Regions from separate parts of the Homo sapiens genome. Here region 1 is linked to region 2. Evidence: fine-mapped expression QTL. A gene starts in region 2. The other region holds a variant in brackets. All regions are shown on one strand. Distances are from middle to middle.

Region 1 (5,473 bases), 20 kb before region 2:
TGTCAGGAAATAAGGACTCCAACAATCCTTGTTGCACAGAGGAGGGAAGTGAGGCTCAGAAAGGCTGGAGAACTTACGCAGGGCCACTCGGCTGGGTAGGGAGCAGGACAGGGATTTGTGCCCAGGCCTCGTTGCCCCCAGAACCTGTGAGCTCCAACCATGCAGTGCCACCTTCCCACCCATGTTGCTGAGTGGTGCCTTCAAACTGTTTGGACCAGACTCACAGGCACAAATACATTTCATGTCACAAACCAGGCCACACCTGCACGTAGGCACACACAACTAAAATATTAATATCTTTTTTTTTTTTTTTTGGTCTCAAACTGCTGAGAGTTTTTTTTTTTTTTCGTTATCTGCCTGCCTCGGCCTCCCAAAGCGCTGGGATTACAGGCATGAGCCACCATGCCTGCCCACTCTGATGTTTTCTAGTCTATTCTCTGATGATCCCAGCTCCAGGAATTTATTCTACAGATCCATCCACATTCATATGAAATGTGTATGAACAGAATTATTGACGTGCAGGTCGGGCGCAGTGGCTCATGCCTGTAATCCCAGCACCTTGGGAGGCCAAGGCAGGCAGATCGCTTGAACTCAGGAGTTTGAGACTAGCCTGGCCAACATGGTGAAACCCTGTCTCTACTAAAAATACAAAAATTAGCCAGACGTGGTGGCAGGCGCCTGTAATCCCAGCTGCTTGGGTGGCTGAGGCAGGAGAATCGCTTGAACCCAGGAGATGGAGGTTGCGGTGAGCCAAGATCGCACCACTGCATTCCAGCCTGGGTGACAGAGCAAGACTCCATCTCAAAAAAAAAAAAAAAAAAAAAATTCATGTTAAGAGGAAAAGGCTCAAAATAACCCAAGAGTCAAATGATGGGAGACCAACTAAATAATCTATGGTATAGCCGCACAATGGAATATTATGAAGCCAAATAAAACAATGAGGTACTGGTTGGAAAAATTCCAGAACATATTGTTAAGTGAAAAGAGCAAAACATAAAACAATGTGGGTGAGAGGTGGGGGAGTGATGCATGTTCTTTTGATGTGCTTGTAGCTGCATAAGGAAAAGCTGGGAACATGCACAAGAATTGAGTAAGAAAGAATGCTTTCCTGGCCACCTGGGAGTTTCTGGGTCCTTTTCCTGCAGTTAGCCCTGGGCAGAATGATCAGGGTAGAATTAGAAGTGAAACACAGCCAGGCATTGTGGCTTGCGCCTGTAATCCCAGTGCTTTGAGAGGCCAAGGTGGGAGGATCACTTGAGCCCAGGAGTTCGAGATCAGCCTGGACAACATAGTGAGATCCTATCTTTACAAATTTTTCTTTTTTTAATTAGCTGGGTGTGGTGCACGCCCCTGTAGTCCCAGCTATTTGGAAGACTGAGGTGGGGGGATTACTTGAGCCTGGGAGGTTGAAGCTGCCGTAAGCTGTGATCATGCCACTGCACTACAGCCTGGGCAACAGAGTGAGACCCTGTCTAAAAAAAGAAAAAAACAGGAGTGGAACTCATAGTTTCCTTTTTCTTCTCTTGTCTTTTACTTTTTCCTTTTTTAAATTGAGATGGGGTCTTGTCATATTGCCCAGGCTGGTCTTGAACTCCTGGGCTCAGGCAATCTTCCCACCTTGGCCTCCCAAAGTGCTGGGATTACAGGCGTGAGCCACCGCGCCTGGCCTATTTTTTCGTTTTAAATTACATAAAATAGAAATGGGGCAGGCACCGTGGCTCACGCCTGTAATCCCAGCACTTTGGGAGGCCGAGGCCAGTGGATCACCTGAGGTCAGGAGTTCAAGACCAGCCTGGCCAACATGGCGAAAACCTGTTTCTACTAAAAATACAAAAATTAGTTGGGTGTGGTGGCATATGCCTGTAGTCCCAGCTACTTGAGAGGCTGAGGCAGGAGAATCACTTGAAGCTGGGAGGCAGAGGTTGCAGTGACCTGAGATTGTGCCACTGCACTCTAGCCTAGGTGACAGAGCAATACTATGTTTCGAAAAAATAAATAAATACAATAAATAAATAAATAAATAAAATAGAAATGGGTTCTCGCTATGTTGCCCAGGCTGGTTTTCAACTCCTGGGCTCAAGTGATCTTCCTACCTCAGCCTCCCAAAGTGCTGGGATTATAGATATGAGCCACTATGCCTGGCCTCTTTTCCTTTTCATATCAATTTGATGTCTGAACCACGTAAGTAAAATCTTTTAAAATCTAAGGCAGTCATATCCACCTAATTTGATGTTCTGGTGGCCACATGTCCCCGAGGTCCTTACTTACCCAGAGCTGCCACGATGAGGAAGAAGGAGGCGGCCACGAGGAAGGCCACGTCGGGCTTGGTGTAGGAGAGCAGCTTCTGCAGCGTGGCCCCAGACGCCTGCTCGGGCGGTGGCCGGCCGCTCCCAGGGAAGCCCTCAGCCTCGGTGGCCGCCCCTGGCTCCAGGGCCTGGGTGCCTGGCCGCACGGTGGACAGCAGCCACCAGAGCAGGAAGGATGCGCCGAGTGAAATGTACGTCCACACGAACAGGGCCCAAAACCAGGGGTCCCGGATGGGCCTGCGCACCTCTGAGAAGAGCAGCAGCTTCACCATGGCATAGATGCCCACGAAGAGGCACACGAGGGTGATGACCAGCCACGAGGCCCGCAGCCGCCGGGGCCCCAGCGCACTGTTCTTGGCCACACCAATGGTGGCTCCCAGCAGCAGGCAGCTGCGGTACAGGCAGGCTGCCCAGAGATCCAGCACCGAGTCAAAGATGTTGAAGTGGCGGATGTCCTCCAGGAGGCTGCGGTCCAGGTGGCTGAAGACATAGATGGCCGTGGTCACGCAGATGTCCACACTCATGAAGGCCAAAGTCACCACCACCGCCTTCCACAGCCGCATCCTGCTGGTTGGAGGTGGGCGGGTGCTGAAGGCCAGGTTGTAGCTCACGGGGGCAAGGCCATCATCATCCACAGGGCGAGGCCAGGCCTGTAGGGACAACAGCAAACATCAGCACAAGGGGTTCAGGTTTGCCACTCGCTGGCTGTGTGACCTTGAGAAAGTCACTTGACATCTCTGAGCCT[TAGTTTTCTC/T]ATCTGTAAAATGGCAATATCAACTTCCCGGGTACTAAGATTCCACTCATTCAAGGGATACTTACTGAGTGCCCACTGCGGCCAGGTGCTGTTCTTTGTTCTTTGTCATGAACAAAAAGAACAAAGATCCCTGCTCTCCTGGAGATGACATACTCATGCAGGAGACAGATAATAAGGAAATGGGCTCACGCCTGTAATCCCAGCACTTTGGGAGGCCGAGGTAGGTGGATCACCTGAGGTCAGGAGTTGAAGACCAGCCTGGCCAACATGGTGAAACCCCCATCTCTACTAAAAATACAAAATTTAGCTGGGTGACAGAGCGAGACTCCATCTCAAAAAAAAAAAAAAAAGATAATAAGGAAATAATGTGTGTCTTGTGAGGCCAAGGTTGGAGGATCCCTTGAGGCCAGGAGTTGGAGAGCAGCCTGGGCAACAGGGTGAGACCCTGTCTTTAAAAAGCAAACAAACAAACAAACAAACAAACATTAACTGAGTGTGGTAGCATGCTCCTGTAGTCCAAGCTACTTGGGAGGCCAAGATGGGAGGATCGCTTCTTCAGCCTGGGAGTTCGAGGCCACAGTGAGCTATGATCATGCCACTACACTCCAGCCCTGGTGACAGCAAGATCCTATCTCTAAAAAAAAAAATTTTTTTTAATTAAAAAAAGAGATAAGGGTTGTGGTGGAAAAAAGAGGGGGGTAAATAGGATGGGGTGAGGGTGAATAGGATAGGGGTGGGGGAAGACAGAGATCAATTTTATTTTATTTATTTATTTATTTGAGACAGAGTCTTGCTCTGTCGCCCAGGCTGGAGTACAGTGGTGCGATCCCGGCTCACCGCAACCTCCGTCTCCCTGGTTCAAGCGATTCTCCTGCCTCAGCCCCCCAAGTAGCTGGGACTACAGGTACCCCACCACCATGACCAGCTAACTTTTTGTATTTTTTTTAGTAGAGACGGGGTTTCACCATGTTGGCCAGGCTGTTCTCAAACTCCTGACCTCAAGTGATCCACATGCCTCAGTAACCCAAAGTCTGGGATCAAAAGCGTGAGCCACTGTGCGGGGCCAGAGATCAATTTTAAATAGGGGGCCAGAGAAGACCTCGCTGGGTAGGTAACACTTGAGCAAGACTTGAAAGAGTTATGGAAGTCTGCCAAGTGGCTATCTGGGGAAAAGCACTTGGCACAGGTGAAACAGTGCCAGAGCCCCAAGGCAGGAGTGCCCCTTGGGAAGGCAGCAAGGCCCCATGAGATCAGAGAGGGTGGGGAGTATCTGGAGGATTTTGCATCCATAGTGAGGACGAAGCTGAGATAAGCAGAGTTTAATAAACAGCCGCTGTCTTTACTACCACTACTCATTTCTCTGAACCTGTTTCCTCATTTGCAAAATGTGAGTGTGAGGTTCAATGTGTCAGTTCTGGGCAGAGTGCCTGGTGCATAATTGCTGCTGATTGTAATCAACCATATACAGTGTGTGCTTAATAAATGTTTGTCCACTTTTCTCCTCCCACGTCAGGCCTTCTATCTCTGCAACCCCAAATAAACTATTTTGGTCTAAGAGGGAACTTGACAGCTGTGGGGGTGGCTTGCAGGCCACACAGCAATCCAGAAACCTTGGCATCTGCTTGGAAGTTTCCAGAATCTTTTCCTCCTGCCCAGGTTGGCCCTCGTGCCCAGCCCTAGGCCCCTTTGGTTTTCTGAATCTTGATGTCTGCTTTATCCAAGGCATCTCCCGGCACTGGGTCCCTCAGGACTCCCCCAGAGCCGCAGGGACACCCGGGAAGTGGGCCTGGAGGCCTGAGTTTGTGAGTGGGGCTTGTCCACGGTAGGGTTAGGACCGGGCTGGGGTGTGTCCCTGGGTGCTACCTCCTGTCTCAGCTCCAGTCCTTCCTCCCGTGGGCCTTTTGTTGTCATATCTGCAAAATGGGCTGGGCTCTAGATCCCCCAAGAGGAGGGGTGAGGCGCTGGGTGACAGCGGGGATGACTGTCGTGGCTGGGAAGGGGCCATCCTGAGAGAGATCCTCTCCCCGAAGCTCTGGCGCCCAGGTGCCCAAACCGCTCACACTGTGGCATGACTGGAACCTCACACAGTCCCACGAGGCCAGGGTTTCCATATTCCCGTTTACAGTTAGGGAAACTGAGGCACAGAGAGACAAAACCACCTGATCCAGACATTCAGCCAACAAGGGCCCAAGCCAGGATGACTTGAGGCAGTCAGTGAGTGTAGGACCCCAGCATCTGCCTCTCCACCTGTCTACTGCATGCCTGGCACAAAGCAGTTGTCTAATAACTACAAGCAGACAGGGATGTAACACTGCACTTCCTGTGAGCCCTGCCCTGCACCATGTGCTTCAAATCCAGGTGGCCCCACCTATTTAATCCTCACAGCAACTTTGTGAGATGTGCACTGTCATCC
Region 2 (5,217 bases):
TGTGGCTCTGGGCGGAGGCCTGCGGCCATGCCAAACTCCAAGTAGGGCAAAAAATGCCCCACTTCTCTTCGGATTTCTTGCTGGGCTCACTTATTGGCTAAACCCAGCAGGAAATGCTGGGCAAGGGAGGTTTGCGTGTTGTTTAACCTCTGATTCAGTTTCCTCATCTGTAAAATGGGAGCAACAGTAACCCCCTCTCTTAAGGCACTGCGACGATCAAGTGAGTTAATCTGCATAGAGTGCCTGTCACAGGGCCCGCACGTAGTGTTTGGAAAGTGTTTCCTATTCTTATTGGCACTGATAGCCTGGGCTAGGGGCTCCTGTGGGAGGCAGATACAAGTTTCCCCTCATGGAGCCTGTGCTTTGTTGGGAGTCATGGGTGGAATGAATCCCCCTCCTCCCAGCCTGGGGGTGCTCTCCTCATTGCCTTCCACTCCCCGGCAGCTGAGATAGTGCTGAGGCTGTTGGCTGGGGCAGGGCCTAGGCTGCGAGGTGGCCCCATCGTGGGCACACTAGCCCTGCACCCCTGGGCATTGGTGCGTCCGCCAAGAAATGTTTAGGTTTCCATTCTCAGCCTGGTTTCTTCCCCCTCAGGGCCCAGCAAGAAAGAACAGCCCCTTCTGGCCTTCCTGCTGGGGGACAGAGGCTCCCAGAGCCACTTCTGAGTTGGGGTACAGACTTCGGTGGCTCATCAGATGAAAGGAGGTGCAGAGAGAGCCTGAAGTTGGCTCTGTGATCCCGACTTGGCTGTCACTGGCCTGCTGGGTGTCCCTGGGCTACTTCCTTCCCCTCTCTGGGCCTCAGGACCCATATGTGAGCTCCCAGGGCCAGCCCTGTGGACACTTGTAGAGTCTGGGGAAAGGTTCCGGGCATAAGTGGGGGGCATGGGAATCGGCCTCCCCTGCTCCTCATGTTACTTCCTTAAGTCATCACAATAGCCCTGAAAAGCAAAGGCCTCATCTCCATGGCACAGGTGATGAAACAGGAAGACTGAAGCCCAGGCCTGGCCGGCCCACGGCCACATTCAGGCCAACAGACCATCCCTCCTTCCACAGAGGAGAAGCGCATCTACCGGGTGCCTGTTTTCACAGCGCCCTTCTGCCAGGCCCTGCTGGAAGAGCTGGAGCACTTCGAGCAATCGGACATGCCTAAGGGGAGGCCCAACACCATGAACAACTACGGGGTGGGTGAGGCCTGGCCGGTGGCAGAGGAGGGGGTGGCTGGGGTCAGGAGGCAGTGTCAGAGGTTCTGCAGATGGGCTGCCTGCCCGGGCTGCGAAAGAAGGTCACAGTGGGATCACCGTGGAGTGGAAGCCCAGGGTTGCAGCCCTCTAGTTTCCTTGCTGACCCCAGGAATCCCCTCCCAGGTGCTGCTGCACGAGCTCGGGCTGGACGAGCCGCTGATGACACCACTGCGGGAGCGCTTCCTGCAGCCGCTGATGGCCCTGCTGTACCCTGACTGTGGCGGGGGCCGGCTCGACAGCCACCGGGCCTTTGTGGTCAAATACGCACCGGGCCAGGACCTGGAGCTGGGCTGCCACTATGATAATGCCGAGCTCACCCTCAATGTGGCCTTGGGCAAGGTCTTCACAGGGGGCGCCCTGTATTTTGGGGGCCTCTTCCAGGTGAGTGTGTGACCCATGCGGCAGGGCCTGGGGCAGCTGTGAGTGCCCAGGCCTGAGTCGTGCCATCTGCAGGCACCCACAGCCCTGACGGAGCCCCTGGAGGTGGAGCACGTGGTGGGCCAGGGTGTCCTCCACCGTGGCGGCCAGCTGCATGGAGCCCGGCCCTTGGGCACTGGTGAGCGTTGGAACCTTGTCGTCTGGCTCCGAGCCTCTGCTGTGCGCAACAGCCTCTGTCCCATGTGCTGCCGTGAGCCCGACCTGGTGGACGATGAGGGCTTCGGTGATGGCTTCACCCGAGAGGAGCCCGCCACGGTGGATGTATGTGCGCTCACCTGAGCTTGCTTGGGCCCAGTGTGGGGGTGGCAGGCAGGTGAGGGCTCCGTTGCCTTGGTCTGGGGGCAGAAATAAAATCCCCGCAGCCTACTGCACTTCTTGGCTCAACGGTGTGCCAGCTTCTGGGTCATTCTATGGGCAAAGATGCTGCCTTAGTTCAGGTTTGTCAGAAGCAGGGTCTGGAATGGGGCTTCAGCGAGGGAGTCAGGGAAGCAGGGGAGGGGAGGGAGCAGCTGGGCAAGGAAGTGGCTTCAGAGGACGTCCAGCCTCAGCTGGCCCCACGGAGAGCTCCAGGCAGAGCCCACAGTACCACAGTGTGCCCACACCACCGGTTACTGGCTCCTGGATGAGGGGGCCAGAGAGGAGTGAATAACTTCCCAGACACTTATCTCCAGGGCAGGGTGCCTTCCAGTAGCCAAGGGAAGCCTCCAGAGAGCACAGATGTGAACCCTCAGCAGCAGGCATCACCCCCCAGTGGACTCGGGTGGGCCACCAGTAGCATCTTCTAGATGGCAGAGGGGTGAATGGCAGGGCCAGGAACCAGGCTGCCCGGGTTCCCATTCTGCTTCTGCCACTTCCAGCTGTGTGGCTTTAGGTGAGCCTTCACCTTTTGGTGCCTTCGTTTCCTCATTTAGCACCTACCTCCTAGAGCTGTTTTGGGAGTCAAATGCGCTGACGTATATAAAGTGCTTTGCAAGATCCCTTTGTGTTTGCGGCTGTCATTGTGGAAGAGTTGCAACTTGGGGGCCCGAGATTGGATGAAGCGCACAGCCACGCTTTGGGTTACACATTTGAAACTCAGGGGGCTTCCATATTGCAGTCTTGAGTTTGGTCTCCCTGGGAAGGTGGGGCACCAGCCCCATGCCACGTTGCACGTATCAGCTGGAGCAGAATCCTGGCTTCCTTCCGGATGGGCCTGGGGTCCATGCCCGCGCTCACTGCCAAGATCTTTCTGGCCCCTACGGACACGAGTTTGCGACCTCTGAGTCACTGGGTGGGCGCGTCGGAAAGACCAGGGCGCCTCAGTCTGGAGCTCGCAGTCGTATGGAGAGGGCAGGACCAGCCGGGGAGGAGGGCGGCGCGCGCGAGGGTCGCCTTCTTCCCAGGGCACCGGGGGCGTGGGTGCTGCGGGCGTGCGCCGAGAGGGCAGCCTTGGAAGTGGGCGCAGCTTCGGCAGACACAGGCGTGAGGGGCTGCGGAGCTCGAGGGCCGGCGCCCCTGCTTGCCTCTGCGGGAGGTGGGCGCGCCCGGGACGGAACCTGGGGCGTCAGAACGAAAGGCAGCGGCGCCGCGCTTCCCAGCCGGCCAGCCTCCCGCGCAGCGCCCCGGCCGGAAGCCTCCTCGCCGCCGCTTCCTCTCGAGAAGGCGCGGGGCGGGCTGTCCGGCCCGCAGGGCGGTCGAGGTGGGAACGGAGCAGCCCCGGGGGCCCCCTTGAGGCGGCGAGGCCGCGAAGGGCGCGGGGCTGGAGGGTAGGAGAGCGCGGGAAAGCGCCCCAGACGCCACTCGCGGCGGACGGCGGCCAGTTCCCAGGGGTTTGGAGCCGGGTGCGCAGGCGTGGGGCCTCCGGGCACGGGGCGGGCCCTTAACAGGCACCGCTGCGGGGACTGGAGTCGGCGGAGAAAACCGGGGTCCCCAGCGCTGGGGGTGGGTGAGGGTCGCTCATTTTCCCGGGACGGTGACGGGTACTGGGCGTCGCCAGGCCCCGGCCCCGCTAGAGCCACCCTTGGAGCCCGCCCGCGGCCGGCCTTGGGGGCTTCGGCTCAAGCGCGTCTTCTTCGTCGCCAGCCCGCGGCGCCATGGCTCACGTCGGCTCCCGCAAGCGCTCGAGGAGTCGCAGCCGGTCCCGGGGACGGGGGTCGGAAAAGAGAAAGAAGAAGAGCAGGAAAGACACCTCGAGGAACTGCTCGGCCTCCACATCCCAAGGTCGCAAGGCCAGCACGGCCCCTGGGGCGGAGGGTGAGGACCACAGGCATCGGGGAGAGGAGGCGCAGTTACTACCCGGGGAAGTCGGGCGAGCAGTGGTCGGGGACGCTCAGTCATGCCTCTGTGCAGCCGGGCCTGAGATGTGAGGGCCAGGCGCCGCAGGAGCCAGGAAGGGGCTCCTCTGGGAAGCTCCATCTCTGTTCTGGAAAGCCCCTCAGGAAGCGCTCACCCTGTAGCCGGTCTGTGCCTGCCCCAGGCCAGAGCAGGGGACGAAGGTTTACCTCTTCCCCTCCTGGCCTTCCAGCCTCACCTTCTCCCTGCATCACAGAGAGAAGCAAGCAGAAGGCCCGGAGGAGAACAAGATCCAGCTCCTCCTCCTCTTCTTCCAGTTCTTCTAGCTCCTCTTCTTCCTCCTCGTCCTCCTCCTCTTCCTCCAGTGATGGCCGGAAGAAGCGGGGGAAGTACAAGGACAAGAGGAGGAAGAAGAAGAAGAAGAGGAAGAAGCTGAAGAAGAAGGGCAAGGAGAAGGCGGAAGCACAGCAGGTGGAGGCTCTGCCGGGCCCCTCGCTGGACCAGTGGCACCGATCAGCTGGGGAGGAAGAGGATGGCCCAGGTACTGTGCTGCCCAGCACCTGAGAGGGAGAAGGTCGCTTCCCAAGGCCTGGCCACCACCTCCGTCTTCCCTTCCAGTCCTGACGGATGAGCAGAAGTCCCGAATCCAGGCCATGAAGCCCATGACCAAGGAGGAGTGGGATGCCCGGCAGAGCATCATCCGCAAGGTGGTGGACCCTGAGACGGGGCGCACCAGGTGGGGAGCTTTCGGCCTGACTTACACCACAGGATCTGGGAGTGTTGGCTGAAGATGTGTGCTCTCGGGAGGAGTGGGGCCGGGCGGGGTTCCTGGTGCCTGAAAAAGGCCAAATGTGGGCAAAAATACGGTCACTTGGAGTAAGTAGTTGCAGGGGCTGGAAGGGCCTGGAGGAGGCTCTTGAAAGGGCTGTTGTTGGCCGGGCTGAGGCTGGCAAGGCAGAGCCCAGCTCCACTGCCTTCATCAGGGAGAGTGGGTGAGGCCCCAGGGTCTGTCCACTCAAGGCTGCGGGGTGGGAGCCCTGGGACCCCTCTGCCGGCTGCTTGTGGTTCTGCTCCTCTGGCATTAGGGGACCTGCCTATTCCTTGCTGAACGGAGACCCTCCCACCCCCAGGCTTATTAAGGGAGATGGCGAGGTCCTAGAGGAAATCGTAACCAAAGAACGACACAGAGAGATCAACAAGGTGGGTGTGGCCCCTCTGCCTGCCATCCGCCCCCAGCTCTGTTTGTGATGTACCCCTCCTCCTGT

What was found. PIP is the estimated chance that this variant, and not a neighbour inherited with it, causes the effect.
Region 1: its variant is fine-mapped to the expression of ARL6IP4 in whole blood (TOPMed, PIP 0.99).

What each region holds. Positions count from the first base shown.
Region 1 is chr12:122,957,367-122,962,839 of GRCh38, forward strand. It overlaps ABCB9 (ATP binding cassette subfamily B member 9), which reads right to left. Exons shown (of 12, transcript NM_019625.4): 2 at 2,269-2,956. The coding sequence starts at 2,869. Among named protein-coding and RNA genes, the nearest start is that of ABCB9, 6.4 kb to the right of the region's middle. The variant TAGTTTTCTC/T (reference allele first, on the strand shown) is at 3,052.
Region 2 is chr12:122,977,387-122,982,603 of GRCh38, forward strand. It overlaps ARL6IP4 (ARF like GTPase 6 interacting protein 4), which reads left to right and starts at 3,295. Exons shown (of 6, transcript NM_018694.4): 1 at 3,295-3,359; 2 at 3,743-3,913; 3 at 4,185-4,493; 4 at 4,571-4,688; 5 at 5,083-5,152. The coding sequence starts at 3,754. OGFOD2 (2-oxoglutarate and iron dependent oxygenase domain containing 2) reads left to right here. Exons shown (of 7, transcript NM_001304833.2): 5 at 1,056-1,183; 6 at 1,367-1,624; 7 at 1,697-2,656. The coding sequence ends at 1,960. RefSeq lists enhancers at 2,492-2,711, 2,868-3,373, 3,374-3,879 and silencers at 2,962-3,601, 3,612-3,711.